Linked DNA regions of Homo sapiens. The protein of the gene in region 4 purifies or fractionates together with the protein of the main gene of each other region. This does not show direct contact. Each region holds a gene or a part of one and is shown on either strand. Other genes may lie near its edges. The genes, in order: FAM83H, PDE4DIP, CRYBG3 and MLF1.

Evidence for each region.
Region 1: the proteins of MLF1 (region 4) and FAM83H purify together in Homo sapiens (affinity purification with mass spectrometry; 4 studies listed by BioGRID and IntAct, with this or other methods). This does not show direct contact.
Region 2: the proteins of MLF1 (region 4) and PDE4DIP purify together in Homo sapiens (affinity purification with mass spectrometry; 3 studies listed by BioGRID and IntAct, with this or other methods). This does not show direct contact.
Region 3: the proteins of MLF1 (region 4) and CRYBG3 purify together in Homo sapiens (affinity purification with mass spectrometry; 3 studies listed by BioGRID and IntAct, with this or other methods). This does not show direct contact.

What each region holds. Positions count from the first base shown.
Region 1 is NC_000008.11:143,723,623-143,730,909, forward strand, and holds the end of FAM83H (protein FAM83H), read right to left. Parts: intron 6,976-7,287; 5' UTR 6,961-6,975; coding exon 6,514-6,960; intron 5,702-6,513; coding exon 5,537-5,701; intron 5,470-5,536; coding exon 5,345-5,469; intron 5,102-5,344; coding exon 2,299-5,101; 3' UTR 311-2,298; downstream 1-310. UniProt on the Homo sapiens protein: May play a major role in the structural organization and calcification of developing enamel. May play a role in keratin cytoskeleton disassembly by recruiting CSNK1A1 to keratin filaments. Thereby, it may regulate epithelial cell migration.
Region 2 is NC_000001.11:148,839,412-148,847,652, forward strand, and holds the start of PDE4DIP (myomegalin), read left to right. Parts: upstream 1-5,016; 5' UTR 5,017-5,363; coding exon 5,364-5,383; intron 5,384-8,241. UniProt on the Homo sapiens protein: Functions as an anchor sequestering components of the cAMP-dependent pathway to Golgi and/or centrosomes.
Region 3 is NC_000003.12:97,817,528-97,825,251, reverse strand, and holds the start of CRYBG3 (very large A-kinase anchor protein), read right to left. Parts: upstream 3,242-7,724; 5' UTR 3,046-3,241; coding exon 2,897-3,045; intron 1-2,896.
Region 4 is NC_000003.12:158,595,181-158,602,467, reverse strand, and holds part of MLF1 (myeloid leukemia factor 1), read right to left. Parts: intron 5,607-7,287; coding exon 5,523-5,606; intron 4,389-5,522; coding exon 4,260-4,388; intron 2,455-4,259; coding exon 2,295-2,454; intron 1-2,294. UniProt on the Homo sapiens protein: Involved in lineage commitment of primary hemopoietic progenitors by restricting erythroid formation and enhancing myeloid formation.

The DNA.
Region 1 (7,287 bases), on a different chromosome or scaffold from region 4:
TGCAGAGAGGCCACGGGGCTGCAGGGTTGGAGGCTTGGCCTCAGGCTGGGCAGTGTGTGGTGGGGCTGCTGAGTGGGGAATCGCAGGTGGGCACCCAGGAGTGTGCCTGCACAGGGGGCATCGGGGACAGGGACAGGAGAGCAGCGTGAAGTTGGGGAGGCCAAGGTGGGCCTTGGAAGTGGAGCTGGGGGGTCTTTAGTGCCCCCCACAGGGGTGGGTGGTGGGTCCACAGGGGAAATCTGGGAGGCCACGTGGTTAAAGGCTGCAGGATGTAACTGGGCGATTATACACACTGGGGAACATGCTAGAATACTTTGTGTGTTGTGTTTTATTAACACCAAAATGTGCCACATCATGGTTTAGAAGAGGTGGAGGGTGCAGGCAGGAGGCTCCGAAGGCCCAGGCAGGGCCGCCAGCCTCTGGCCTCTCCATGGACTCCAGCTGGAGAGCCTGTCCGCTCAGCAACACCCCAGGCAGCACCAAGAATAACATGCCCACAAGAACATCATGGCCAAGAGACGCACAGGCGCATCCCGCTTCCAGGCACCTTTCCCACCTGGCCAGAAGTCCCTGCTGTCATCCCGACTTGCACGGTGGTTTTGGTAACCAGTGGGCTGTGCAGGAGTGAAAGTGGGGTCACTTTCCTTCCTTTCCCAGCTGCTGGAGTCGGAACTGCTGCCTTTGTTTGGCGGCCTTGTTTCTTAAATCAGTTCCCTCTTAGGATTTATTACACTAAAAAAAAAATTAGTTTTTGAAAAGAAATAGGAGAATACAGAAACATGAATTTCACGAGGCTATCATCTAACAGTGGGGGCTTTCTACACACGTGGTGCCAAAATGTGTCATTCTGAGTCAATTGCAATTCCTCTCTAGGAGTGAAAAGAGATAAAAGATAAGCCAAGAACCCTGGACAGATTCTTGGTGTTGGTGACAAAGAGGAAAGGACCTGAGAATGGGGCTGGTGGGGAGAGGGGGGTGTCTGCTGGATACCAGGAGGACAAGGACCACTCCCACCTGCAGGGGTGCCCAGGACCTAGTTGGGCTCGGCCTCAGCTGCACCTTGTCCCCTGCCCTCACCTGGCCCCATACCTGTCAAGGATAAGCACTCCACAACCAGCCCTTCTAGCGCCTGGCTTGGGCCGGGCCTGTGCAGGGGGTGCTCATGAGGCCGGGGCCACAGGTTGTCTGGACCATGTTTTACTGTGCTGCAAAGGCCAATGCCCCCTCCCCACTCTCACCCAGTGCTGGCCAGAGCCTCGCTGGAGGAGATGGCAGACCTGGCCAAGGCGCCCCTTCGGGCTTCCCTGTGTCCCGTCCCCAGAGGCCTGCCCTGTCCAGCTTCCTTGCCACTCCAAGGGGCATCTTCTGGTCCAGCTCCCCCCCCCCTGCCCCACCCACCCCTTGCAAACTGCCCGCAGCCAGCCCAGTCTTCCCCACAGCAAGAGACGGGCCTCCAAAAAAGATGCTGGGAGGCAGCGAGCAGGAGAATCCAAGTAGGAAAGGAAGTGAAGCCCAGGCGGGGGAGGGGGGAGACGGGGGGGGGGGGGGGGGAGGGAAGGAGGAGACCTTGAGAGAGGGAGGGAGCGGGGAGGGGGGAGGCCCTGAGAACAGGAGGCCCTGAGGAGGAGAAGGGCCCAGAGAATGAGGAATTGAGGCACAGAGGCGAGACCCTTGCAAGAGGATAGGGGACTTAGCGGGGTGCAAGGCTCACGCCTGTAATCCCCCCACTTTGGGAGGCTGAAGCGGGCTGATCATTTGAGGCCAGGAGTTGGAGACCAGCCTGGCCAACATAGTGAAACCCTGTCTCTACTAAAAATACAAAAACTACCTGGGCGTGGTAGCATACATCTGTAATCCCAGCTACTCAGGAGGCTGAGGCAGGAGAATCGCTGGAACCCGGGAGGCAGAGGTTGCAGTGAGCCCAGACCGCTCAACTGCACTCCAGCCCTAGGTCTCAAAAAAATAAAGGGGGCGGGGGGGACTGAGGCACAAAGAGATGGCGGAGCCAGACGCTGCGCCACGCAAGGCTGACGGTGCAGAGATGAAGGTGCTGAGGGGAGAAAGGCACTGGTGGCGAGGGGTGCAGCCCCAGCGTTGGGGAGGCCAGGGGGCAGAGACGGCAGCTGCCAGGTGAGCCTCCAGTGGAGCCGAGGTCTGGCGCACTCAGCCAAGCCCCAAGCGGCCGTGGCCTGACAGCCGCTGCTCAAGCAGATGAGCAGGGCTCTCTGTTCCGCGGGGCTTCTGGATGACCGGGGCAGCGATGCGGGCACCCTGGCCTGGGTTGCCAGGCCAGAAGACTCACTTCTTGCTTTTGAACGTGCCCAGGATCTTGGGCACGAACTTGCCCACCTTGCTGTCCCTGGTGCCCTCCTCCGCGGGGCCTTCCCCTGCCCCAGGGCTGCTGGCCTCCTCTTTCTTGCAGAAGACCTCGAAGCGGCTGTACACGCGCTTCTCCTTGCGCATGCTCTCCATGCGGCGCAGCAGCCGATCGCGCTCCTCCGCGCTGGCTGGCAGCGTGCGGCTCAGCCGGCCCTGGGTCCCCAAGCTGTCCGAGCGGAAGATGGCTGAACACTTGTCCTTGTCGGACATATCTGGGGCCAGGACGCCAGCAGCCGGTGGACGGCCTAGCTCGGGGCTGTTGTGGGTCGGGCCGGGGCTCGGGGCAGGGACCGCACGGTGCTTCTGGCCGTGGGCACTGATCTGCTCCAGAATGGCCTTCGTGTCATCCCGAAGGTTGCTGCTGTACAAGGCGTTGGCCGTGGCTGAGGACAGGCGCGCCCGCGGACCCCGCTCTTCTGTGGCAGCCTCCGTGCTGTCACCCTGGCCCAGTGACAGACGCCGCGGGCTCTCGGGTTGGCCGTTCTCCTGCGGCACTGGGAAGCCACCCTCATCCTCCATGCGCCGCTCGCCCTTGGGGCTCAGCAGCTGCCTAAGACGCAAGGAGCCTTTGCGCAGGACTTCCATGGGGCCGCTCGGCCCCTCCTCCGCGGGCCCGGCCTTCGGGGACTCCCCGGAGATGGTAAGGGTGAGGCTGCCCCTGCGCTCCGGCACGGGGGGCACCGGACTGCTCCTGCGCTCCGGCACGGGGGGCACCGGACTACCCCTGCGCTCGGGGTAGGCTGAGGTGGGGCTCCCCTTCTGCTCGATAAATCCTGTAGTTGGACTTCCTCTTCGAGTGGAAAACCCAGGCGTGGGGCTCCCCTTCCGCTCAGGGTAAGCCGAGGTGGGGCTCCCTTTTGACTCATTATGGAGCACCTGGTGCGCTCCGGACCCTTCCAGCGGCAGAGGGCTGTCCAGCCCTTGCGGGGACGTTGAGTGGCTCTGGGCAGAGAGGAAGCGGGAAGGCAGGCGGTCGGAGCCGCTCCGGCCCAGTGTGTCGAGCAGCTGCGCCGCGGTGAGCGACGCGGCTCCCGGCTGCCGCTCCGCCTCCTGGTGCAGCTGCTGTGCAAAGGAGTCGCGCAGGTCCAGCAGGCAGCTCTCGAGGCTGCGGCGCTCGCCCCCCACGGCACCTGGGGCCGCCACCTCTTCCCGCCACGCCTGGGACACGACGGCCTTGCTGTGGCTGGCAACGGTGATGGCGCCCGCGCCGCCGCCGGGATCACGGGCTGGGCCCTTGTACTTCTCCAGCAGCTCCGCCACCTTGGTGGAAGCCGCGGAGCGCACGGCCTCTCCGCCGGGCCCCAGCGTCTCGCTGACCGTCTGCTCCTTGTGCAGCAGCTGCACCTTCTCAGTGGCCGCCGCAGCCCCGGCCGCGCCCTCGGCCTGTGACGTGCTGAAGATGAGCGAGGAGCGCAGCCTGGAGCTGCGCTGGACCAGGGGGTTCAGGCGCGAGCGGAATGAGTCCTGCTTGGCCAGGCCAGGCTCCTCCGGGCCCTCGCGCTCTGGGCCGTTGCCGCCGCTGCCCGGGCCTGGCACCGGGACCTTGGTGGGGAAGGCTGCTGGGACGCGGAAGGCCGAGGGGAGCAGGTCGCCGGCAGGTGCCCGGCCCCCGGGAGCCAGCACGTCGTCTTCGTAAGCCTCCGCTTCCATGGGCGCCGGTAGGCCGTCGTCGCCCCCATCCTCGCCGTGGCAGCCGCTCAAGTAGGAGGCCAAACGCCAGCGCCGCAGCCCTGCCCGCCCCTCGGGCCCGCCCCTGCGCTCCGGCTCCGCCTCGGGAGCGGGGTCTGGGCCCGGCCTCGCCGCGGCCTGGCATGGGAAGCGCTGGGTCAGGTTGGGGCGCGGGGCTCCGCTGGGCTCCAGGCCGCGGGGTCCGGGCGCGAAGGCGGGGTCCGAGCCGTGGCGCACCTCGCGGGACGCGCTGGACGGCACGTAGTCCAGCCGCTGGTGCCCGTCGGGTCCGAGCTCCGGGAAGCGGGGCCCGGCGCCCAGGGTGAAGTCATCCGGGTCCGCGAAACCCGCGCGGCCCCCGCGAAGCTTCTCGAACAGGCCTTGCGGGCGCGCCGGCGTGAGCTGCGGGTCCCACTGGTACTGCTGCTGGTAGAGCTGGTCACGGTGGAAGTGGCTGGTCTGGAAGCGGAAGTCGTCGCCGTGGCTGAGGAACGTCTGCCGCGACACCTGCCGCGCGGCCGCGAAGTTCTCCACGGCGCCCGCGCCCTCGGTCGCGAAGCTGTGCCGCTTGAAGGCGTCCATCTCCAGGTGCCGCGCCTGGAAGAAGCCCCGCGCGCCCGCGAGCTCCCCAGCCGGCCCGGCCTCGGCCTCCAGGCGCCGCGAGAGCGGCCGCAGCCCCGCGTGCGGTTCCAGCGCGCCCCCCGGCATCCGCGGCGGCTCCTCCCGGCGGAAGGCCGACAGGAAGTGGCGGTCCGGGTCGAGGAAGGAGGGGAAGCCCAGGCCCTCTTCCCGGGGTGGCGGGAACAGGAGGTGCGCTCGTTTAGGGAAGGAGAAGGGGGTTGGCGCCCCGACCCCAGGGACGCCCACGAGAGGCCCGGCCCCGGCATACGGAGCCAGGGCATAGGCGTCCATGCGGGCCAGGGCCGCGGCCGAGGGCACAAGCGGCTCGGACTGCGCGAAGAGGATGCGGAACTCCTCGTCGAAGCTGGAGACCAGCTCTCCTTGGAACACGTGCGCCAGGCTGCGGTGGATCTTCTCAAAGGACCACATGAAGCTGTGGGGGGGTCAGGGCCAGAGTCAAACCGAGCTGGAGCGAGGGCACTGCAGCCCCGTGGGCAGCGGGTGGGGCGCGGAGGACGCAGGGATGTGAGGTCTGCAAGGACCTGGGCCCGGCTAGGCTGTGCAGGGGTCTACAGGACAAGGGCTCCTGGCGAGGAGGGCCCTGGTGTGGAAAGGGGGTGCTGGGGTTACAGGAGGAGGCCCCAGAGAAGGGGGTGAGGGAGCCCCGCGGGCGCACCTGTAGCTCCCACTCATCACCACGGCACAGTCCACCAGCAGGAACTTCTCCTTGACGTGGCCCTTGAAGGACTTCCCAGTGCGGCAGTAGTAGGTGGGGCCCGCCACAGTCCGTACGCGCAGGAACTGGGGAGGGAGGGGAGTCAGATCTCTCCCACGGGTCCTCCCCAATCTCCCACTCCCGGGAACTCACATCCACGTGCTGCAGGTTGACACGGCACTTGTCGGCCATGTCCAGGAAGTGCTGCGCGTTCATCTCATCCAGCAGGATGTAGACTGGGACCCGACGGGCCGCGGCCTCCAGCACTTCGCTGAGCAGGTCCACATCAGTGAACATGTCCATCACCACGGCCACCACCTGCAGGGGCGGGTCAGGACGGAGAGGAGAGGCCCCTGCTGTCCCCACACCATTGTCCAGCCTCCCCTCCACACCCGGGAGGTGTCTGGATCACCCACGACCACTGTGAAACAAGCTAGTCCATCCTAGGGAGTTGGCGCCACATCTGGGAAGATGGGCAGGAAGAAGGGACCAAACAGAAGAGGTGTGGAACGGCTGGCCATAAGGGGGAAACCGAGGCAGGTGCAGGGCAGAGAACCCTGGATGAGGGTGGGCCAGGTTGGGGCACGGCAAGGGCCCCTCAATCCCCTCCACCCTACAGACGGCTGAGCTGCCCCCATTCCAGGGCAGCTGTCAGGGCCAAGTGCCAGGCTCCAGTTCTGCCCTGGGACGGGGTTGTTGCCCTGGGCAGGGGAGAAAGTCACAAGCCTTTAGCGTCTGGACCTCATGCCTCAGTCGCTATGGTTTAACAGCACCTTCCGCCGTCTGCTAGCTGTTTGGTGATGGTTAGAAGCCCTCAGCTGGCCAAGGGCCACCGGGCAGGATGAGAGGTAATTATCTGAACAATGAACCCAGGCTGGTGGGGTGCCCACCCATCCCCAGAGCCCCCGAGTTTCTGGGCACTGGCCATGACCACAGGCAAGCAGACCTGTGCAGAGCCTGCAGCCCCTGATGACCGAGACCTGGCAGCCCTGAAGATCTTTGCCAGGGACCCCCACTCCAGCTGGAGCTCAGGCTCACCCCTCAAGCTGATCATGCTCATGCATCTCCTCCACCCCCGTGCCTCTAGCCCAGGCCCCTCCCCCACTACCCTCAAGCCCAAGATGGCGCACCTGCTGGGCGGAACGGATCATCCTGCGGGCCTCATCCTTGATACTGGGGCTGTCGGGGGGCGGTGGCTGCACCAAGGTGGTCACCTCGGTGCCCTGGAAGCCGAAGGTCAGAGGCCAGCCCAAATCAAGCTCAGGCACGGCCTGGTCTGAGTTCACTGGCCAGTATGTACCCGAGGAGCCATCCATGTCCACGTCGAGAAGGCTGCCTTCAGGTGGCTCTCGGGTAACATACTGCGGAGGCCGAAGGTGTCGGCTCACATGTTCCAGCTCTTCAGGGCACAGGAAGTCTGGTGCCCCCTCGGTAGCGAGGAAGCGGCTGTAGGCCTCCGAGCCACCCTCGGCCAGTGCATCCACCGCCAGGCGGTAGTACTCTTTGTAGTGAGGCGGCAGGTACCCGGGTGCCAGTGGGTTGTCCCCCTGCGAGGAGCTCTGAGAGCGACGGGCCATGTTGGGGCCAGGGGCCTGGAGGGGCAGGGAGACACATGACTAGGGGTGGGGGCACTGGGACCACTCCTACCCTCGAGCATGGACACACTGTGGAAAGGGCCGTCAGTGACTTGGGTAGGCTGGAGTTTAGCCCATGCCCAGGAGGCCTTCCAGGGCACCAGCCGAACCAGGCTCACAGAGAGCAACCCAGACCCTAGGATGCCCCTAGCTGAGGGGACACTGGCAGAGGGCTGGGGCACAGGTATCCCAGCCCTGTCTCTCCTTTCTCTGGGAGGCTGAGGCAGGAGGACTGCTTGAAGCCAGGAGTTTGAAACCAGCCTGGGCAAC
Region 2 (8,241 bases), on a different chromosome or scaffold from region 4:
CAGACATCTCTTCTGCTGTATTCTATTAGTCAAGTAAGTCTCTAAGGGTAGCCCATATTAAAGGGAGGAGAATTAGATTCCACCTCTCAATGGGAGAAGTAGCAAGTAATTTGTGGTCATCTTTAATCTACTACAGACACTGTATCCTTGATCTCAGAATGATGCCTCTTTGTCTGGAAAGGGCATTTGTTTTTTAAGCCCAAGGTTAGAGAGACAGACATGGAGCTGTGATGGATCAAGAAGACATCATGTTCTGACTAACCAGGTGATCACAGGGATCACTGAAGTGACAGATGTTGCAGACATATTGTCCTCCTATCTAAGTCCCAGCCAATGTTACGTGTCAAAATTAGGGAAGCAGTACGCAAAATGGTTAGGCAGGCCATTCTGAAACAAAACTGATTGGTTTCAAATCTCAGCTTTGCCATCAATCAGCTTTGTGAATGTGGGCAGTATAATTTACCTCCCTGTGCTCCACATTAGTCATTTGTAAAGTGGGCATTAACTAGAGCCTACCTCAAAAGACTGCTGCGAGGATGAAAAGAGTTAGTATACACACAATTGTTAGAGGAGGATCTGGCAAAAATATATTAGACATAGCTATTTTTATTATTGATGTATAGATTATGCAGTAAACTATATCAACATCAATAATCCTTTTTACCCAGAAACAAGTTGGAGAGAAGAAAAGGAAAATGAATTTTAAAAACTGAATGAAAGGTAAAAGTATCATTGGAATATTTGGAGCTGACTGTAAAGACTGTGACACCTTCCGATTTTTTGTCCCTTATCATCAATTCAGGTATTCCCTGAAGCACAATCAGTTGACCAAACTAAGAGCAGTGCCCTCAGGAAAGAATAAAATGAATAGTTTAATTTATCAACATCATTTACCCAGGTTATTTGAGTTCTTTTTATTTATTTTTTTTTTTGAGACGGAATCTCGCTGTCGCCCAGGTTGGAGTGCAGTGGCGCGATCTCGGCTCGCTGCAGGCTCCGCCTCCCAGGTTCACGCCATTCTCCTGCCTCAACCTCCCGTGTAGTTGGGACTATAGGCGCCCGCCACCTCGCCCGGCTAATTTTTTGTATTTTTAGTAGAGACGGGGTTTCACCGTGTTAGCCAGGATGGTCTCGATCTGCTGACCTCGTGATCCGCCCGCCTCGGCCTCCCAAAGTGCTGGGATTACAGGCGTGAGCCACCGCGCCCGGCCGGTTATTTGAGTTCTAAGCCAGAAAACTGAGAGCAGACACACACATAACGATACTTGGTTGCAAAATGGAAATAAAAAGCAATGTGTTAGGATAGGCTAGATTATGCTCCAGTAATAAATAATCTCCAAATCTCAGTAACTTAATACAACAAAAATGAATTTCTTGCTCATTCTACATGTTCAATTAGGGTTAGCAGGAAGGCTCTGACCATCACAGTAACTCAGGGACTTAGGTTGATGAAAGCTTCATCTTATTGATCTTCAAGGATCAATAAAACAGCGGAAACTGAAAAGGGCCAATTATGTACTAGCTCTTAAAAATGTCTGCGTTCTTCCCAGAAGTGACCACATGAGACTTCCTCTCACGTTTCAGCCAACGAAACAAGTTACATTTCACTGTTCAAAAGTCATAGCTAAGTTAAAATGGGATGAGGAAGAATAAAGTTACCATGTATCTACAAGGAGAAAAGCTTAACAAAAAGCAAGAAAGCAGCACATACAGTGACTGGTGGATTGCATTATTGTTCCACAAATATTACTCTCCCCTCCTGCACTCTGTGGGCAGACTGTACTTTTCTGCACCAATGACTTTGGACTTGGCCATGTTACTTACTTTGGTGAACGGAAAATGGCAGAAGCGAGACTGTGCCAGTTCTGAGCAGAGACCAGTCATCATGAGTCTCTGCCAACTCTCTTGCACTCCTGCACTCTGCCATGAAAATGACAGACTTAAACCAATCCATACCTAAACTATAGATCCTTGAGGGAGAAATGGATGTGTGTTGTATAATACTGAGATTGGGGAGTTCTTTGTTGAGCAGCATTGTTTCAGCAAAAAGATGACTAATACAGTGACTCAACACAAGGATTTCATGAGACTGGCTACTACACATATGGTTTCCAAGAAAGGATATGAAATAAGACCTTACTAGCTAGTATTCTAAGAAACGTAAAGCAAAATGAGATGGTGTTACATTATTAGTATACTAGCTAGATATAGAACTAAAATATAACTATCCAATTATTTACAAATTAAATAAGAAAAAAAATAAAAGGAGAATTTCTAGTGCTTTTGAGGCTAAGATAATAAAATTAGAAAGTCCTTTTATCCCAGGAAAATCGCCTTTAGTCCATTCCTGCTGCTATAGCAAAATAGCTTAGACTGGGTAATTTGTAAATAATAGAAATTTATTTCTCACAGTTCTGAAGGCTGGACCAAGATCAAGGTGCTGGCAGATTCAGTGTCTGGAAGAGCTTGCTCTCTGCTCCCAAGATGGCTCCTTGTTGCCACAGATGCTGTGTCCTCACATGGCTGGAGGGACAGAGGACAAAAGGGACCAGAGCAATCCTTTCAACCTCTTTTTTAAGAGCACTAATCCCATTCATGAGAGTGGAGTGTTCATGCCTTATCACTTCCTAAGACATATTCCTAAAAGGCCCCACCCTGTAGTACTATAACACTCGGTGTTAAGTACCAATGTATGAATTTTGAAGGCATACATACATTCAACCATAGCATAATTCAAAAAAGGAGAATGATAAAGGCAGAAAGCTCTTCATTAAGGCATTATTTATAACAGTCTAATATCAGAAACAGCATAACTATGCAATAGTAGAATATTTTAAGTAATCTATGGTCCTACTAATATTATAAAATATTGTACACTCATTAGAATAATAACTATGAACTTTCCCTAAAAACATGGACAAATATTTACTAAGTGAAAGAAGGAGAATATAAACATATACCTAAGCTGTAATCGTAATTATGTAAATAGATATTTAATATATATAGATAATGACTAAAGGGAATTTGGAGAAATTTAAACATTTGTGCTGTAGCAGTGGTTATATGGGTGAATATTTTTCTTCTGAAATCTAACGCAAAAAAATTGTTCTTTTGACAATAAGTATAATTTTTAAAACAACAAGGAAATTTCTCTTCTCAAGAATATACCCATGTGTGTAAGAAAGAGTTGGTGTTTGGATTAAAAGATGCATTTTTTAAAGAGTGGGAAAAAAATGCAACACATTTTTAATATTGAAGATCCCTGGGTATTCTGAGTAATCTATATAACTTTCTGTATTTTTCAAATGTTTTTACAATGAATGTGCTATAAACTTTTGAAAAAAGTTATTTTAAAAATACATGAACGTATTTTCTAGCGTCACTTCTGAGACCCCACAGCTCACCTAGTTAGTGCTATCATTTCTTGAATCCAGTGAGCTGCCTGTAGACAGAGTTCCTCTCCACAACTCGGTAGCCCATAATTTGATTTGAGACAAAGCTAAATATAGCCCCAACTTTGGTATGAAGGATGGGAATCTGACTCTCCCTGCCTTTTCTTCCCCCCCATCAGAGGCAACAGGATATTCTTTTCAAGACAGGTGGCCTGTGAGCCTTGTCTAAGATCAAACTGGACCTTGAAATTTTTCCTGGTAACATTTTGAGCTCTGGAGCAGTGTGGTCCTACCAATAAATCAAGTGTTGGAGGAGTCTAGACTAGGGGCTTTTTAGACAGTTCTGCTAAACCTTCAAATGTTTTGTTATCCTCCCCTCCCCACCCCTACTTTGTACTAGTATGTAGGGGAACCAATCCAAGAGATAACAGACAGATGACAGGTTCCCCCAAGAACACAGACTCCCCACAGTCTCACCAATACCCAGGCATGCCAGGTTCTTCCTGAGTTAAATGCCTAGGAGGCCTGAAAGAATAAATTCATCCTGGAGAAGTCTTGTGGGTCGTAGCTTTAGAAATTCAGGGAACATATCTCTGGGGCCACCCAATGGAGAACACAGCCTGTATCAGAACCTTAGCAGAGACTTTGGGCCTTTTGGGGTCTCAAATTTATCATCTCTGAAACAAGTACAACGAAATTAACATTGCCACATGTGGGCACTATAAAGCCTTTTTCAGATAAAAAAAAAGGTCAGTGATAGTGCTAATAATAACAGTGATTATGTCATTTAATAAAACGGTCTTATTTGAAAGCTAAAAAGGAGCTTCAGGGTGGCAAGCACTCTAATTATAGTATGTCTGCCTTGTTTAAATCTTGATACATAAGTACATGGTACAGGGCCTGAGGCAATGCCATCTCCAAAGAGGCCTTTTCCATGATCTTAAAACAGTCACAAGGGAGTGTCGAGGTCCTGATGGCTACTGTCTTGAGGCTTTTCTAGTGTTCTGGGAGTCAGGAAGCTTCTCCCTCCTTGAAGCTATTGGTAGAGCCCAGTTGCTGGCGAAACTGAAAAACGAGGAGGTAGAATACCCTAAAACAGGAGATGTCTGGGATACAGGCAGCTAATAGGGCTGTAAGGTTTTGTTGGGATGCTTCCCTTCCTGATGAAGGGTCCTGTCCCTGGATTAATGGTGAAACTGGCATGTCACATCTCTAGGAAGACAACATCGTGTTCCATGACCACGTAGGGTATACATCTGCATTCAGCCGGGATTGCTCCTAAACCTTCCTAGACTCCATCTCTGGCTCTGGGGTTACCTGTGGGTGGGGCGATGCAGACACACAAGAAAACCTCCTCTACAAATTCTTCCTGTAGTTGGTTGATTGTATTCTAAGACCTTCGTTGGGATGGGCGAGGGACGGGGCTTGGTACCGCGTCCTCTAAGCTCTCTGCCCTCTGCCGTCATCATTCATCTGAGCCAGCGAGAGAGGGGTCGGGGAGACGCGAGGGTGGTTCAGGGGGCGTGTAACCTGGGCCGATTCTGCCCCAGCACACTGGTTGTCGGGAGCCCCGCCTCCGCTCGCGGTTGACAGCTCAGCTGGTGCCGAGCAACTCGTGCCAGCCAGTCGTGTCTCAGCCTGGAGAGTGCGCGCACCGCGGCCCGGGCAGCCGCTGGCTCCAGCTCACGAAACAGCCCCGGGCGCCGCGCCGCTCTGAGTCCAGCCTCCTACTGAGAACAGTCCCTCCCTTGTGCGGGTCGCACGGCTAGCCGCAGGTTCGGCCACGTCAAATCCATTTTCTAAAAAAGCAGGGAGCAGAGCTCTCTCTTCGCCGCCGACGCAGAAAGGAGCTGGGGAGGAAAAAGCTGCTGCCTTTTGCGCTGGAGATTCGTGGGCAAGGCTTCTCATTTTCCCAGGCTGCTTCCCCTCCCGGGTGAGGAGCGTCCTGAGACTAAGGAAAGAGCCTGGAAAATGGAGCAGACCTGGACGAGGTAGGTGGGCTGTTTCCTTCTCGCCGCGCTCCAGACTTGGTGGTCCTCCTCCCTCCCCTCCCCCAGCGCCCTTAGGGAGAGAGAGGTCGCCCCTCACCACCAGGGTCCCGTGACAGCTTCCCTTTTCTGTAGCCTCGCCCTGCCTGGTTCCCAGCCCACCTCTCTTGGTCATTTTCACATGTTCTGTTTTACGGGGTTTCCCTTGCTTAATGACTCTCCCCTCCACCGAGTCCTGATGTTAAAAATACCCAGGGAGGCCGCCTGGAACTTTCTGTAGAAATGGTTCTCTGTCGTTTCCTTGTTCGTGTGGCTAGAGGGATTCCAGTAGGTCTTCTTGAGAGATATGTTTGATGTCAGATGCTTTGAACAATATCAGGTTTATTCTCACCCTGCCACGTTTTCCTTCTCAGCCTCATCTGTCACTACTCACACAAAGGCAAAGGGACTGAGTGAGCAGAGCCCAGCAGCACTCATCTCCACAACCTCCAGTTGGAGCCCACTTGGGGGAGGAATGGAGAAGGAAAGAGATCAGGGCACCACACTGCTCAGGCTTTATTGAGGCCAGGCAACAGTTGGCTTTTAGGTCAGATTTTGGAGATGGCCTGTGAAACTGCGTTTTCTTCCAGTCCTTCCCCCAGACACACTTTAAAATGAAGCCCCATTCAAGGAAAGGGTAAGGATAAGAGACCATGTATTGAGACAAAGACTTCGTTTCTGTTTTTTAGTGGGTGGGAGGGTAGGGAGACTATTCCAGCGGTGTCTCTATAACAGATACGCTTCCATCTGTGGGATTTAGCTTTGGAGAATTGGGGTGGGGCCAAATGAGCGCTCTGACTCCTGAGAGAGTGAAGACGGTACAAACACAGAAGGTAAATTTGGGGCTTATGCAAAAGACTTGGGTGCTTTTAGTTGATTGCTAAGCTCAACAGGAGTGAATGGTATAATGTGAATATTAAAGAAGGAGCAAATTGAAGCTTAGGGTTTGTTGACAGAAGAAGTAGGCTGTCTAGATTCTGTCTAGATCAAAAGTGATGATTTTACTTTTGGCTCCTTTCTGCTCCTCTTGGGCCTCTCCGAGAGGGCTGTGCTTAGTTCTGGGCATCATTAGATAAAATAAGTACAATCAAGAGACAGGAGGGAACTCAAAGCCATGCCTTGAGGGATGGCCAAAGGAAGGACCTGGGACTCCTGAGTCCGGAGAAATGACGACTGGGAGTGGGGAGGATGTGGTAGCTTCCTTCAAATTTCCGAAGAGCTATTGGTGGTAGAGGGATTGAATCACATTAGAATCTCTTAGGAGGACAGAACAACCGATGCAAGCGAGTTGTTGGGAGGCGAGTTATGGCTCAGTGTAAAGAAAAAGCTTTCTGGCCAGGTGCAGTGGCTCATGCCTGTAATCCCAGCACTTTGGGAGGCTGAGGCAGGCGGATCACCTGAGGTCGGGAGTTCGAGACCAGCCTGACCAACATGGAGAAACCCCATCTCTACTAAAATACAAAATTAGCCGGGCGTGGTCGCACGTGCCTGTAATCCCAGCTACTCCGGAGGCTGAGGCAGGAGAATCGCTTGAACCCGGGAGGAGAAGTTTGTGGTGAGCCGAGATCAAGCCATTGCACTCCAGCCTGGGCAACAAAAGCGAAACTCCGCCTCAAAAAAAAAAAAAAAAAAAAAAAAAAAAAAGACCAGGCGAGGTGGCTCACGCCTGTAATTGCAGTACTTTGGGAGGCTGAGGGGGGCGGATTACGAGGTCAGGAGATTGAGACCATCCTGGCTAACACAGTGAAGCCCCGTCTCTACTAAAAACACAAAAAAAATTAGCCGGGCGTGGTGGCGGGCGCCTGTAGTACCAGCTACTTGGGAGGCTGAGGTAGGAGAATGGCGTGAACCCGGGAAGCGGAGCTTGCAGTGAGCCGAGATCGCGCCACTGCACTCCAGCCTGGGCGACAGAGCGAGACTCCGTCTCAAAAAAAAATTAAAAAAAAGCTTTCTAACAAGTTAGCTGCCTGGGCAGTATGGGCAGTAAAGAGATTGTTGACCCTGGAGTTACTCAGGCAAAGGCTAGATGACCACTTGATGGTGATGGGAGTGAGTGTATCAGGGCCTTTTGCTCTCTGCCAGTGTTTTTCACACTTGAAGAAAAAAGTATTATTTATTAAGTTTTAAAAATTTTATATTTACATGTAACAATTTCAGACAAATTCAGAAATGATTTGGAAAAATCGCAAATTATATATTTACAGTCCAATTAATTTGACAAACTGAGTATACTCATGGGATGGGCATTCAGATAGAGAAAGGGAACATTACCAGCATCCCTGAAGCCCTCCTGATGACTTCAAGGATAATCATTATCCTAATTTTTAACACCATAGAATAATTTTGCCTAGTTTTGAACTTTATGTAAATGAAATTATACACCATGTACTCTTTCGTACGTGGCTCCTTTCACTCAATCTTTTGCTTTTGGAGTTCTATACTGTTATATGGTACTGTAGTCCATTTATTCTTGCTTTTAAATAGGCTTCTATAGTGTATAAATATATCAAATTTATTTGTCCATTCTATTCTTAATAGGCACTTGGGCAATTTCCAGTTTGGAGCTATTATAAACAGTGTTGCTATGAACATTTCTGTACAGGTCTTTTGATGAACATATGTACACATTTCTGTTGAGTAAATAAGTAGAAGTATGATTTCTGCGTAATAGGAAATGCATGTTCAGATTTAGTAAATACTGCCAGATTGTTTTTTTTTAAACAGATTACAAAAGAGATTTCTAAAGCGGGTATCCAGGCCAGGCGCGGTGGCTCACGCCTGTAATCCCAGCACTTTGGGAGGCCGAGGCGGGCGGATCACGG
Region 3 (7,724 bases), about 61 Mb from region 4:
TTCAGCAATATCTGTATAACAGGCTTTTGCAAAAATTCTCTGAGCCTTAAATCTAGAGCCAAACATTTTGTCTAGAGACCTTTATAACCCAGTTCCAACCTAAATTTCTTACTGCTCCTTTCACTCTGTCCCATTAATGTATATATCCCCTAACAGATCATAAACCCCTTGCAGGCCTTTGCTCAGTCTGGAATGCCTTTTCCCGGAATACCTGTTCCCTATTCTCTCTCTTCCTAAGTTCTCTTTGTATAGAAACATCACCAATTCCTTGAAGACCCAGTTAAAATCATCCCTACCAGGAAGCACTTCCTGGTCTCCCCTATCACTTCTAATGAGTCCATTCCTTGTATGCTTATAAACTGGGCTTAACACTGCACCAGTGATTCTCAAACTGGGATCCACAGAACTCTGGGAGTTTTTGAGTTTCCTATGAAAACTTCAATTGCAGTTTTCCTTTTTATCATCTAAAATAAATTAATATAAGCATTTCCTGGAAATGGTCAACCACCTAATATGAGTACAATCAAGCAATTTGAGTGCCTACGCCTAAGTTGGGATATACAATAGTGTTGATGCTAATAGGCCTTCTTTAATTGTGACAAAGAAAGAATACATAATGAAGTGTTGTCACCAACTGAAGCCCATATAAATCACAGCACACCATAAAAACAAAGATTTTCCTATGGTTCAAAACAGTAAAATATTGGAAGACCTGTATCAAGGCATGGCAGCTCCCCAAAGACCTGGTGTTTGTCCCAGTACGCATTTTGTGAGCAGGCAAAAAAACAGTTTCAGGATGTTGTAAATTCGACTTTTACGGGTCTCATAATTATGTTTTAGTTTATTTTTTAATTTTGTACTCCTCTTCATCTAAAATCATCACTACAGAAGGTATACCCAGCTCTCATAATGATAAAAGTTTTTATGCCCACAAAGAGAAATAGCCAAAATACTCTTTCATTTTGAAATAAGATCACAGTGACAAATTGCAATTCTGTTTCCAATCTTGTTAACATCAGGGTGTTGTGTTACTGGGACATTCAGTACTATAAAGCGGTTCCATTTGTTTTATTAAACTTTCAATAAAGGCTTTGTGTTTGTTTATGCCCTTGAAATGAAAGATTTAAGCTCATTTAAAACAGTAAAACACCCACATAAAGGGTCATCTGCTATCCCCCTAACATCTGGCAAGTTCCAAAAAAGATGAGAACAAAATTAGCGTTGATATAAGCACAATTAAAATCTTCATCGTTGAAAAGCCATAATTTGTGCCAATCTGGAGATGATGAGAATAGAGAAGTGGTAGGTGAACAAGGAACTAGTTGCTGGAGGGGTCAGCTCCAGTCAGTAAAGAAATTAGAATTGAGAAGTGCCTTAAAAAGCCAAAATAGGGCAGAGAGGCAAGCAGGATTTCAGGCCATTACTGACATGAGCCTGAATTTGACCTGCTTACTCCTTTCTAACACTGACTCTCAAGTTCCCAACTTTTGCTGCGCCTACTTGGGATTTCCTTGCAGACTGCGTTCATATTATCCAAGACTGTTAGTGCTGTTACGGCGGTGGCAGGCACCACAGGCTGTCTGCCCACACCAACAGAACTAGCTGACACCCTGGATGAGATCTGTCAGACTTAAAAACTATTTTTAACTTCTGTGTAACTTTGAATTTTAAACTCTCAACAGTCAGAGCAATAATAGCTGAAACGTCCCAGGAGAATAACCACTCAATTATCGTAGGAGCTTTCTTGGAAACATGTGGCATGTTATTAACAGACGGTCATAATGAAAATGTTTCACAAGCGGGGAAACCGAGGAACACACAAACGACTAAAATCACATCACAAAATCTGAATACTAATGGAATTGGCTCACTCTCAGTTCTGTTTCCTATCCATTTTTTTTAAGCCCACCAGGAAATCTTGAGTCCGAAGTAAACACGGTTTTCTGGAGTGTGTCCTTCCAATGACAATGGTCATTCTAGTGCAATCTCGGGAGAAGACAGTGTAAGCCTCTCATAAGTTTAAGAAAGCGAGCTGCGTTTTACTTAACCCCTCTTTCTTCGGGGGGATGAAAAGACTCAGAAACAGGCATTTAAATGAGGCATGTCTAAAATTTTTTGATTTTTGAACATGGGAAAGTGAAGGAAAGATAAAAATATTACAGAGAAAGGGTACATTTTGATTACTGAAACCAAGACAGCTGGAAACCTGATTTCCAGAATCTGTTTGGGAACTTGAGGCAGATGTTTCTAGGAGAGATGAGAAATAAAGAAGGGTGGCGTCATTTACATGTCCAGTCCATTTTGGTGAAAGTCTTGGGAACGCATTATCACAATTCCTTTTAAAAATCATTTTGAGAAAATTTAAATAAGATGGCAAAAATACCAGCTGAGGGGGTGACGCCCCAAAGCTTTACCTTTTCCACTTTTGCCCCGATCTCCTCCCACACAAGTGGTGCTGGGATCGCGCCCCCAATTCCCCTGGCCGACGGCTCCGCTCGGCTCACAAGTGTTTCCCATTACTGCAGGCGGGACGCCGGGGAAATCGCTTTTGCCACAGAACTTGGAGAGTAGAGCGTGTGTGGAACGGGAACCCAATCACGTCCGGGCAGGGGAAAGTGGGAAAGGAAGAGCGCGGAGCCAGGCGGGGATCGGGGGATATGCGTCCGGCTGCCGGGCAAGAACTTCACCCCGATTTAACCTGCAGAGGAGAGGCGAGTAGTGCGGCACGGGAACGGGGCAAGGAGGAGGAAACTTTAGCAATGGAGGAAGGAGAACAGAAAGTGGCGAGCGAACTGCAGCCTGGCCCAAGAGCGGCCCGCTGCCGGCGGTCAGGCCGGGAGCCTTCATCCCGCGAATATGTGCAGGGCCCCCCCGCGACCCCCTCCTCGACTCCCACCTGGCAGCGGACCGGCCTGGAGCTGGAGGCGGGCTCGTCCCCGGCCTCTCCTCCTCTTCCTCTTCCTTGTCCCGGGAAGGACTTCGGGGAGCGAAGAACCGGGAGAAGCTGTGCCAGGGGGCGCTGCCCCTTCTGCGGCCGCTGGACATTTCCCGAGGGGGCCGCTGGCCCGGGGCTGTCTGAAGGGAACGGCCTAGGTGTTGCCTGGTGCCCGGAGCCCGACCGGGCGCCGCGGGATGCGGCTAGGGCAGACCGACTCGACGCGAGCTGCCAGCGCGGCTCAGTCTCTCTCGGGCAGGAGAAGTGCGGACGCGACGCGCTCCTCGCGCGGCAGCTCCTCACGCCGCTGCGGCTGCTCCTCCTCCCGCCCTCGCCCGGCGCGGCCCGCCCCACCCCGAGGAGGAGCCAGTGGCCGCGGCACCGCCCTGAGCCGGGCGCAGCCGCCACCGCTGGGGCGCTACGTGGTCCCCCGAAGGCGCCGGCCTGAGAGCCTGAGGGGAGTCGCCCAGCGTGCGACGCTAGGCTCGGGCTTACGGCTCAAACAAGTTCAGGCTGCAGCCTGTTGGGCTTTGCCTTCAATTACTTTCTGTGACCGTTGTGTTTTCTATTCTACAGTCAGAGCACAGAAACGGTTTTCTTCGGGCTTTTGAAAGAGGTTTATGAACTAAGGTTTGTGAAAACACTTGGCAAACTGCAGTACCGGGGCGCCCCGGACTTGCTGGGAGCTAAGAAACAGCTACCGCAAATACAGCTCCAACCCTGAGGGCGAAAGTCGCGTTAGCACAGAACCGGGCGGCGGGAGGGAGAAGGGGGTACCTGTCAGGCGGTCACCACCTCCCGGCGCGTTCTGCTGGCTTTCTGTGGTGTGACTTTTCCTAACCGCGCTGTGCTTCAGACTTTTCACACGCCATACTTCCCTGCGAACTCTTTCAAAAACGGCACTGATCAAAAAGTATGATTTCAAGCTTGTCAATGCTGCAACATATTTTGCAGTCGTTACACAGATGCCACTGAAATCTGGGAACCAAAGGGTGCTTAAGACTTGTTTTAAGTCTAAGTACAGTGGTATGGATTTTTCTTGGTTTTTCATACCCTATAGCAGCTAGTACAGGAGATACTGAGAGGCCCATTCACCCCAAGTGTTTTGTTTTTGTTTGAAGGCAAGCTGCCCCTGGAGTAGACGTCAAGGAAGTGATATGGCTTTTGTTCATTAAAAAATGTATACAAGTAAATGAGATAAAAATGAAATGTCCACAGCAGAGGGGAGCCTTGGAGTAATCTCCCCTCTGGCTTTCGGGTGCTGGAGGAGAAGGTTGCTCATAAGTAGATTGCATACCTATAAGCCCCAAGTCCTTTCAGCACCTGCTGGAGGCTATTGAGCCTCCCTGCCTCCCCACGCTGCCTCCCAGAAGCCCTCCAGCTCCTACTAACTGCAATAGAGCCAAGACACTCATTCTCATTTGTTCTGGCAGGATTTAACCCATTAAAGTTCAGTCAGCCCGATTTCCATCAATCGGGTTCATCTCAGTCTATCCCTCAAGATTAATCCTTTTTTACTCTTTGGTAAATTTTTCCTATTTCTCTGTGAGCCTAGTCTGAGAAAATAGAAAAAGACTAAGATAATAGACTAGAATAAGACAAGTTCCCAATTCTAGCTTTATTATTTTATAAGAGAATCTCCACTGAAGACCCACTTACCAAAAAGCCCAAAGAGAGTAATAAAGCAAACTGTTTCTTCCAGCTAAAAGGCCCAAATGATAATTTGTCTTCCCAACGTATTATTGAATGACTATCACATTTGTCCCTGACTTGTTCTGTGATCAAACCAGGCCCCAGTGCCTACCCAGAGGGTACTTCGTTCAGGAAGTTTTTCTTGGAATAAAAATGGGGGGGAGTCAATAGGATTTAATTAATGAATTATGGTTTTAACTAATAATATATCTAACAATACTCTGATCTCCACTCGGTAGCACAGCAAAGCACTTAAGTGAATGGTAAATACAAATAATGCCATGTTTACACTAAGACAAATTGCGTCTATGACAAAATAGCTTAAAGTCATAAAACAATGACCATTGAATTTTCCTTCATTTGCTTTCTGAGCACTTATTAGTTTTCTATATGTCCTACATTGTTATAACCTGAACTCATATGAACAAATTTCTAAATACTAAATTCTAAGATTGCATTAGGAAGCCTGTAAAAATGTCAAATTTTAGAGCTGTAAGGATCTTAGAGATACTAATTTAGCACAGTGTCATTAATTCACTGATCCAGTTATTCCCCGACGTTTAGTGAGTGCCTGCAGTAGAAGCACATCTACAGTGAAGCCGATGAGGCTCAAGTTTCTTGGCTCCCTGCTGGCACAGTCTCTTCCAGTGTGAACTCAGCAATGGGATCCATGGCCAGTTTTATCAAATTTACAAAAGTAAATGTTTTAATGTGATTAAGACCACAATCTCTTTTTTTTTCCACTTAGATGTCCACTTAGATTTTCTTTTCCACTTAGAGTTATCAAGAGCATTTGGGAATCTGCTAGGGAATTTCAGTTGGGAATATATTTAGTTTGGACTTAGTGGAATATATTTATGTGGTTTCCAGCCTCTCCAAAGTATAGTTATTTCTTAAATTCCAATTTGTTTGTAGCGCAGCTCACCAAGTATTACACCCAAGATGCAGAGCCAGAGGAGATATATTCTGTGGTCTCTGACACTGAAAATATGTGGGTAATAGAGGTGAGACAAGATTTGAAAGGTAAAGCAGCATCAGGTGTCATGTGGAAAATTATTCCAGGCATCAGAAGACAAAGTTTCAACAGGAAGGATTGCCTCCGATTGATGTAATTTCTCTCATAGCAATAATATATTCAATAATGCAGTATATTTAATTTTTTTTTTGAGACAGAGTCTGGCGCTGTCACCTTGGCTGGGGTGCAGTGGTGCAATTTCAACTCACTGAAACCTCCGCCTCCTGGGTTCAAGCAATTCTCCTGTCTCAGCCTCCAGAGTGGCTGGGACTACAGGCGCCCACCACCATGCCCAGCTAATTTTTGTATTTTCAGTAGAGACGGGGTTTGACCATATTGGTCAGGCTGGTCTCGAACTCCTGACCTCAGGTAATCCACCCGTCTCAGCCACCCAAAATAATTTTTATAACTGTAAACACAAAACATTTTTTCTTGTTGATGTAAACCATGTAAAATAGAATTTATCAGAATTCTTGTTTGTAGGGTACAAACCTGTAGCAGTACCACAAGCTTTGTGTGTGTGTGTGTAGTACTGCATGTTTACACAGCCTTTCTATCAATAAGAAAAACAGAACTAGAGGAAAGATTGCATTATCTTTTCATTATTATGGAAAATAATATTACTAAATTATTGTCATATGAAAGGCTATTGAAGAGTACACTGCCAAAAATATAGGAAAAAAAGTGATTGTGCAAGGCATTTAGTAAGAAAACAAATTGTTTTTCTAGTCAACCTTTTAAAATTAGTAATTTGCATGGTTTATGTTTTCATTCAATATATTCATTTTTATATCTAATTTTCTTTTAAATCCTTTTTCTTTAAAGAGGACCCTCCAAATTGTAAAAACTTCAGATCCCACAAAACCTGGATATGTCCTCTAGTGCATACTATGTGTCAGATACATGCTCATTCTTAGACATAGAGATACGGTGATAGATAAGACCAAATGCTTAACATCAAGGAGCAAGTTTAATTGGGCAAGATGAGCAAATGGGGTAAGATGGGAAACATAGGACGGATCCCCAACTTAATCTGAAGGGTTCCTGGAAGGCTCACTAGAGGAGATAACTGTTAATATGCTCTCTTCTTCTCTGCCTCCTTTTAGCACCTGATTTCCACCTATAATACTGTAATTCAATAACTTGTGTGATATATGAGAAATCCTGAAGTTCATCACACTGTAACTGAATTGCCATTCCCACAACGTAAGTACCATTCTCAAAGGTATGAGAATAGAATGAAAGTGTTGATCCTTGAAGCATTTAAACTGCAAGAGTAGTTTAGTAATGCTAAGCGTTTTTGTTCTGAAAAGTCCACCAGGGAATAAGCTTCTGTATATATCTTAGAGCACAGTATTTACTGTGTGGCAGGTGGCCCAGGAATATTAAGACAGCTGTCAACATCAAGGAAAGCACCAGCCCATGAAAAAGCAAGCAGATGGATTGGGGCACTTCACTAGCTGCCTCCTAGAATAATAGCTGTGCGTGGCCAAATGAGGCAGTGTCATGCGGCCCAGGGCAGCAAAAAGCTATTACTGAATATAAGCACTCAATTAGGAGGTGGGGTGGGGGGAATATCTTCTCTTTTCCTTTGTTTATATGCTCAAATTTTCATTAAGAACTCCCACAGCAAATAAAAAAGGGGAAAAATGATGTTAGCATTTCTCATTGTTACTTTCTAATTATCATGGTTTGTAACATGGGGAAATGCCTGTCTTGCTGCTTCAATGAGAACAGATGGTAAAATTTTTAAGTAATTGGTTATTCCAACTTCTATGAGATGCATGATGTTTTATTGTATTGTTTGTCTGGTTTTTGTTTGCGGAACATGTGGAGATTGAGATCTTTCGAACACACATCTTTTAATGCTTAAATTAAGTAAAATGTGTTAGTCTGACCTAAACTACATTTACACTTTTCTCCCTTTGATATGATGATACTTCAAAGAGAAATTAGTCCTTTACAAAAATATAACATTAACATTAAAAATTAAATATATAGCTTTCAAACAGCACAAAATTTGCTAATATTGAAACGTACTTTTAAAAATGTATAAATAGGGGTAGCATGTCTTTGACAAAC
Region 4 (7,287 bases):
GTGTATACTTCTGTGGCTAGCACTTCTATTCACCTAACCATCTTTCTGTGTAACTTGACCTCACAAGTTTCTGTTGTCAATTTCCTAAGACAGGTTACTCAGCTAGAATGTCAATTCATGTTGTTATGAAGTAATCTAACTTCCATAATAGCAACAATAGAGACATGATAGTACTTCTTAAGACTGCTTTAAAATATTATGTTCCTTCACTCAATTTTTCATCAAAATGTTGATTATTGTGAAATACTCAGTATATATATAAATGTGATAAAATTACAGAGGTTACAAATAAACACAGGTCACAATATCATGGCTTCTATCTTACTGCATAAGAATAATTTTATCAAACCCCAGCCAGGTGTGGTGGCTCACGCCTGTAATCCCGGCACTTTGGGAGGCTGAGGTGGGCGGATCACAAGGTCAGGAGATCAAGACCATCCTGGCTAACATGGTGAAACCACGTCTCTACTAAAAATAGAAAAAATTAGCCAGGCATGGTGGCGGGCACCTGTAGTCCCAGCTACTCAGGAGGCTGTGGCAGGAGAATGGCGTGAACCTGGGAGGCGGAGCTTGCAGTGAGCCGAGATCACACCACTGCACCACTGCACTCCAGCCTGGACAACAGAGCGAGACTCCGTCTCAAAAAAAAAAAAAAAAAAAAGAATAATTTTATCAAACCCCAATGTTAATAGAATTTCTTCCTCCCCTCCACCCAACACAGTCTTGCTCTTTTGCCCAGGCTGGAGTGCAATGCGTGATCTTGGCTCACTGCAACCTCTGCCTTCCGGGTTCAAGAGATTCTCCTGTCTCAGCCTCCCAAGTAGCTGGGATTACAGGCGCGGGCCACCATGCCCAGCTGATTTTTGTATTTTTATTTATTTTATTTATTTATTTTTTTGAGACAGAGTCTCGCTCTGTCGCCCAGGCTGGAGTGCAAGGGCTCGATCTTGGCTCACTGCAACCTCCGCCTCCTGGGTTCAAGCGATTCTCCTGCTTCAGCCCCACGAGTAGCTGGGATTACAGGCACGTGCACCACCATGCCCGGCTAATTTTTGTATTTTTAGTAGAGACGGGGTTTCACCATGTTGGTCAGGCTGGTCTTGAACTCCTGACCTCGTGATCTGCCCGCCTTGGCCTCCCAAAGTGCCAGGATTACAGGCGTGAGTCACTGTGCCGGGCCCTGATTTTTGTATTTTTAGTAGAGATGGGGTTTCACCATGTTGGCCAGGCTGGTCTCGAACTTATGACCCCATGATCTACCTGCCTCGGCCTCTCAAAGTGCTGGGATTACAGGCATGAGCCACCGTGCCCGGCCAGAATTTCTTTTTTAATACAACAATTTAAAATTTAAACACTCTATTATGGAAAAACATTATTCAAAATACTTTCTGAAACTAGGAGATGAATCCAACTAAATTTTAATATAATTTCATTATTGAATTAATACAATTAAATATAAAAGCTTAATATTGATTTAAAAATTAATAAAAATAATTTAAATTTAATGATTAAATTTGTTAATAAATTGTAATATAATTAAAAACTACAGGGAGAAGAGTTAGGACACTAGAAGGATGTAAATGCATTGAAGAATAAATACAAAATCCAGAAAAAGAAAAGATTTACTTGAGAGAGAGAGACATACATGTAATCTAACATATAACAGAAATTAAAATCTTGTCTATACAAAAGCCTAAGTACTACTGAACAGTACAGAATGATTTAAGTAAAAATTATGGCTTATTTACAATAAAACTTTAAGGTAACCACTTAAAATGCTTTTGAAAAATAGCATCATAAGTAACTTTACAATTATAATGGTAAATTAAAATAAGCACAATATAAACTATATAAAAGTAGAATAATAATTTGAGAAAAAAGTGTTTATATATATAAAATGATTAGGAAGAAATACATTAAAATATTACTAGTATTTTGAGTTTGGATTATGGATTATTTTTGTCTTTATACTTTTCAAATGTACTTTCTTGATAATCAGAAAAAATATTTAAAGACACATTTTGCCTAATGATATTACTAAATAACAATTCAAAAGATTCCACTTTCCAAGGATAAAATAAAAATAAGTAATATCCCATATTGCCAAAAATCACTATAAAAAAGAGCTCTCCTATGAAAGGATGAAAACACAATCCTATTACTTTCACAAGGTATTCTCTACATGCATTATTCAAAAACTACATCTTATGACATGTTTCTAAAAAAAAATTCATCAAGTACGGCTGTTATTTTAAATTTATAAGAAAGAATATTATTTTTTTGTGATAACTTACTTTCATTCATATTGATGAACTCCTGGTTGACCTCTTCATCTCCAGTCTTCTTGTTCTTTGACTTTTTAATGACATGAGCTCGGTCATGGATATGATGACCAATAGCCATTTTTTCTAGTCCACTGTCAGAATCTCTCATTGCTTTCCTGGTTTCCTTTATCTGTAAAAATAAAGAAATTTTATTATTATTTAAATATATATAGAATGTATATCTCAGGGCCAGCTTACCTACAGAGATATGGCCATAGATCTATTGCTCTAAAAATAATGTGTGCTCAGTTCCACTATTAACTTGTGGTAAAACTGTGGTAATAAGTCTCTGATATTTCCTGAACTCCTTAAAATGAAAATGTCTACAACAAACAGAACCCATACAATTTAACCTTTTTCCAAATTGTAATCAAATATTAAAACAAAAGTAGCAATTATAGTTTAATGCCTTCAAGACTGTCTTAGATAATGTAATAGAAGGAAGTTTATGGTGGGATTCCTACAAATAAGGGCAACTAATTATTCATCAGTCATATTGATTGGCTTGAATCTCATGATTCCCGACTATCAACTCTATGGAAGTATTATAAGAATATTTCTGATAGCAACTAACATGATTTACTGTGGGACATCTACAATTATATTCTGTTTACATTTAAGTTTGTCACTTTTAGAAAGTTAAAATTAAAATGTCTGAGATTAATTAGCAGAACTATGGCAAAAGCATCATTAAAAGGTTCATCTTTATATGTAAGAACTAAAAAATGTACTACTTCACATTCATTAGATTGGTAAACCTAAATTTTTACTATAAGTACTAACAAGGAAGTAGAGAAATGGAAACTCACAAGCCACAGTTTTGGAAGCCAACAATTTCAATCACTGGGATAGTAGCTTGGAAACGCTAGGTAAAGAGGAAAGTACACATACCCTACAACTCAGCAATACCACTCCTAGACTCTGTATAAGGAGCCATGTATAAAGATGAATTAGTGAAAGATTAGACTCACCTACATATCTATTGACAGAAAATGATTTAAAAATCATGGTACATTCATATTTTGGATATTACATAGAAGTTAAAGAAACCAGGGCCACATGTATCAACTTGAATAAATCTCAGAAGCGTATTAATCATAATATATTCATATTTTGGATACTACATAGAAGTTAAAGAAACCAGGGCCACATGTATCAAGCTGAATAAATCTCAGAAGCATATTACTCAGCAAAGACAAGTTGCAGAGGACATATGCAATATGATACCCTTTATGTAATGTTGGGAAATCTGGAAAATAATCCATTTTTTTAATGACAGAAACGTGAAGTAATAAAATTGTAAAAACATGCGTGAAAATGATAAACTCCAGATACAGGAAAATGGTAATCTCTGAGAAGGGGAGAAAGGGAAAATAGACCTCAGAGGAATGTATTAGAAGGTTTAACTGCCTCTGTACATTTTCGCTTAAAAAGAAAACAAAGCAAGAGACAACTTGAAGCAAATAGAGAAAAATGTTATGATATGACTAAACTGGGTGGCAGGAATATGGGCACTTATTATGTTATTCTCTATATCCTTTCTGTACACTTGAAATATTTCATGAGTTAAAAAATTAATTCACTTCAAATGTAAACTTAAAAATAGACATTAATTTCATGAAACAAAGGCTTCTTTTCGTGTTTTGTTTACCTTGTCAACATGTAAAGGTAATAAACATCCATAGATATTTACATGAAAAAAGGCACCCTCACGGGGGGGTGGGGGGGCTACAAAAAAAATGCCACAAACTAAGTAAATACAGTTGAGCTTTAATGGTTTCCACAGTGAGGACTACCTTACCCCCAACCCCCACACCTCCCTCCTGTCCCCCCACCATCTTGTACCAGATTAAATTTTAATAGTTAAAATTTGATCTAGACAGTCTATCATCCCCTAACTTTATAAAACTTTAGGAATGCTTATAGAAAACTTACTCCTCCTGGAGCTCGACGAGTTTGAGTTGAGGCCTGAAAAACCTTTGGCGGTTCATCTCCTATTTTGGAATAAGTCATAACTGAGGAAGAACAAAATGAATGTCCATTTGGATCCACTGAAAGTTGACCCTACAGGTAAACAAATTGTAAATTCAGTCGAGTCAAATATAAATAATTATTGCCAGAGAGTTCAAATAAGTAACAACACTAGCTGTAAGTTCTACTAAGGATACTAAACTACCAATATGGTGTAGTCAAAGGCACACCCAGGTTCTCAAGTGAGAAGTGACTTGAAAAATTACCTCCGCCCAAAAAAAGTCACCCCTAGAGGGTCCTAACGGTCGTCCATTTTAGGTACAATTATCCCACTCTCGTTACAAAGACTAATAAGTGACTCACTCAGAGATCCTTAAGTCTTTGGGTGCTCGTGGCTTAGATTTCAATAAAGATGCTATGCCCCCAAACCTGTGATACTTCTATAGTCAGTGGTTGACCCTTGTGTGTAATCTTGCCAACATTAAGCCAATCAATTAGTTATACATCAAGTTTCGTACCTCCTCCTGTAGGTACCAGATTGCTACATTACTAAAACCAATAATGCCCTAGATTATTTGGGCATTCTGAAATGATCCATAGAATTCAAACTGGATGACTAGAATGTTATGGGTCTTCTTCAGATCAAATCAAGTGACTGGTTTTGATGTTAATATAGAGAGTATTATTATAGTACTAGTTTATTTGGACTATTAGGGAACTATACCTAAACATTATTCCTAAAATTTCTGTTTTCAGAGTCGTTTATAAAACCCTGAAACTCTTCAGATGCTACAAATCCTTTTAAGTAGACAGGTTATTAATAATAAAATTATGCAAATTCATATAAAATGTTCATTTACAATAGTGACTTTCAATAGAATCAATGTTTTTGAGGTTATTTTTTTTCCAATTTTTAAAAAATTTTCAAAGTTAACATTATTTTTCAAACTTGGAGGTTATGAACTCAATTTAGTGGGTTGTAACCAGGATTTTTAATACATGAAATAGACTAGAAAATAACTGTATATACTGTAAATAGTATAGTCATTTTTTCATGAAACTTTTGCTTCAAATATATTTATAAAGTATACAAATATTGCTTATTGGGTTAATCATGTAAGGTATCTTTTTTAACCACTATGGTTAAAAAAGTGTTTGAAAGCCACTATGAAATAGAATATATCAAAGTATACACAATGTTCTCAATGCTTTGTTTTTAGTACTTACGAAGTTTCTTTCTAATTTCTGCATATAGTTTCTCATATTTGACACCATTTGGTCCATTGTCTGGAAAGAGCTGACATCTGTATGCTACAGAATATCAGGAAGTATGTTATTAACTGTAGGTAACAACACAAAAGATGCAAATACATCTTCCAAAACAGCTAAAACATTTTTTTCCAATTCATTTAGTGAAATCTCATGCAGTAATCAACCAGACAAAGATAACTTAGAGGATATAATGACAGTGATTAGTTAAGGAGAAAATTGAAGCATACACAAAATCCCAAAGAGCCAACATACAAATAATTAGGGAACTGTAACATTATAAATACATATATGTGCATGTATATATAAAAACACATACACACCTAATCACTCATTACTCACTTTTTCAAAACATAATTTGGTGTATGTTAAATACTAAGTGATACATTCTCTAGCATACGATAGTTTTCATAATTTTCCTTATCTCTCAATACTCCACCATGCAAATAACTAAATTTGCGTATAAGATGCCAGTGTCACCTCCAGCAGTACCACATGGCTGACAGAAGTTGTCCCTCGAGTAAGTAGCCAGCCTTCCTCTCATCATAGTAGGATCTGGGTGACAGAAATCAATTCACTTTACTAATAGGCCTTCAATTTGCTGCCTACTGAAGGGTCAGTAGGCTATACCCTTGAAGCATGAGGTATGTGTCTTCAGAAAAACAGTTAAGAATTCCTCTAAACAGTAGTTTCTCAACCAAGATTGATTTTGACTCTCAGTGGACACTGGCAATAACTATACTCATTTTTGGCTGTCACAGATGAAGAGAGCATATAACTAGCATCTAGTGGGTGGAGGTCAGGGATGCAGCTTAACATCCTACAATGGATAGGACAGTCTCCCAGAACAAAAAGAATTACCCTGCCCAAAATGACAGTAGGGCTGAGGTTGAGAAACTTTGCTCTAGGAAAATCTACCACTGATTTTAGGTTTTAAAATCTACCACTGATTTTAGGTTTTATCACTGGAAGACTCACCAGAAAATAAAAGTCAGGCACACATTCCAATGTGTTAGCCAGTAAATCATCTGTTATAAAACAGAATGAGTTGCTTGGTTTAATGAACTTCTCTGTTCAACCAAGCGGAGCTCTGAATCCTCCTAAGTTCTATTTGTGTCTCTGTGTTCTATTGCTATTGGATTTTTACAGATATAATAATGTAAAATAGGTGGGAAAACCAAATTCCTCCTTAGAACCTGCACTTAATATTGTAGGGAACAACAAAGGCACATTTAGGAAATACTAATATATATTTGGGTAAAAAAGGACTGAAGTAGAATTAATTTTGCATTTCAGAGAGGCAAACACAATTCAGGGAATATTCTGAATATTTGCTTTAACACTAGATTGAGAATCCGTTCTTATTTCATGAGATATGGAAAGGTTAACCCAAAGAAGGATAAAAAGAGAGAGAGGAAAAGATTAGACATTTGGGTATTTCTGCCCTCTTCTCAATTCATGTTCAAATCAACCATCAAAAGATGTATCTGCACTTGCTCTGGGGTGACCCAACACACTGGAGTGACAAAAAGTTGGGGTACAAAATGTAGTTGAGACTTCAGTGGGCCCTTAAGGCCTTCAAAAATTTTGTACACATTCTCCTCTTTCTTCCTTAAATGTTTCCTCCTGACTTTAAACCTAGTTAGTTCCTTCTCATGATTCAAGTATCACCACCTGAGAAAGGCCACCGCTGGTCACCTGTCTAATCCCTCCTTCACTTCCC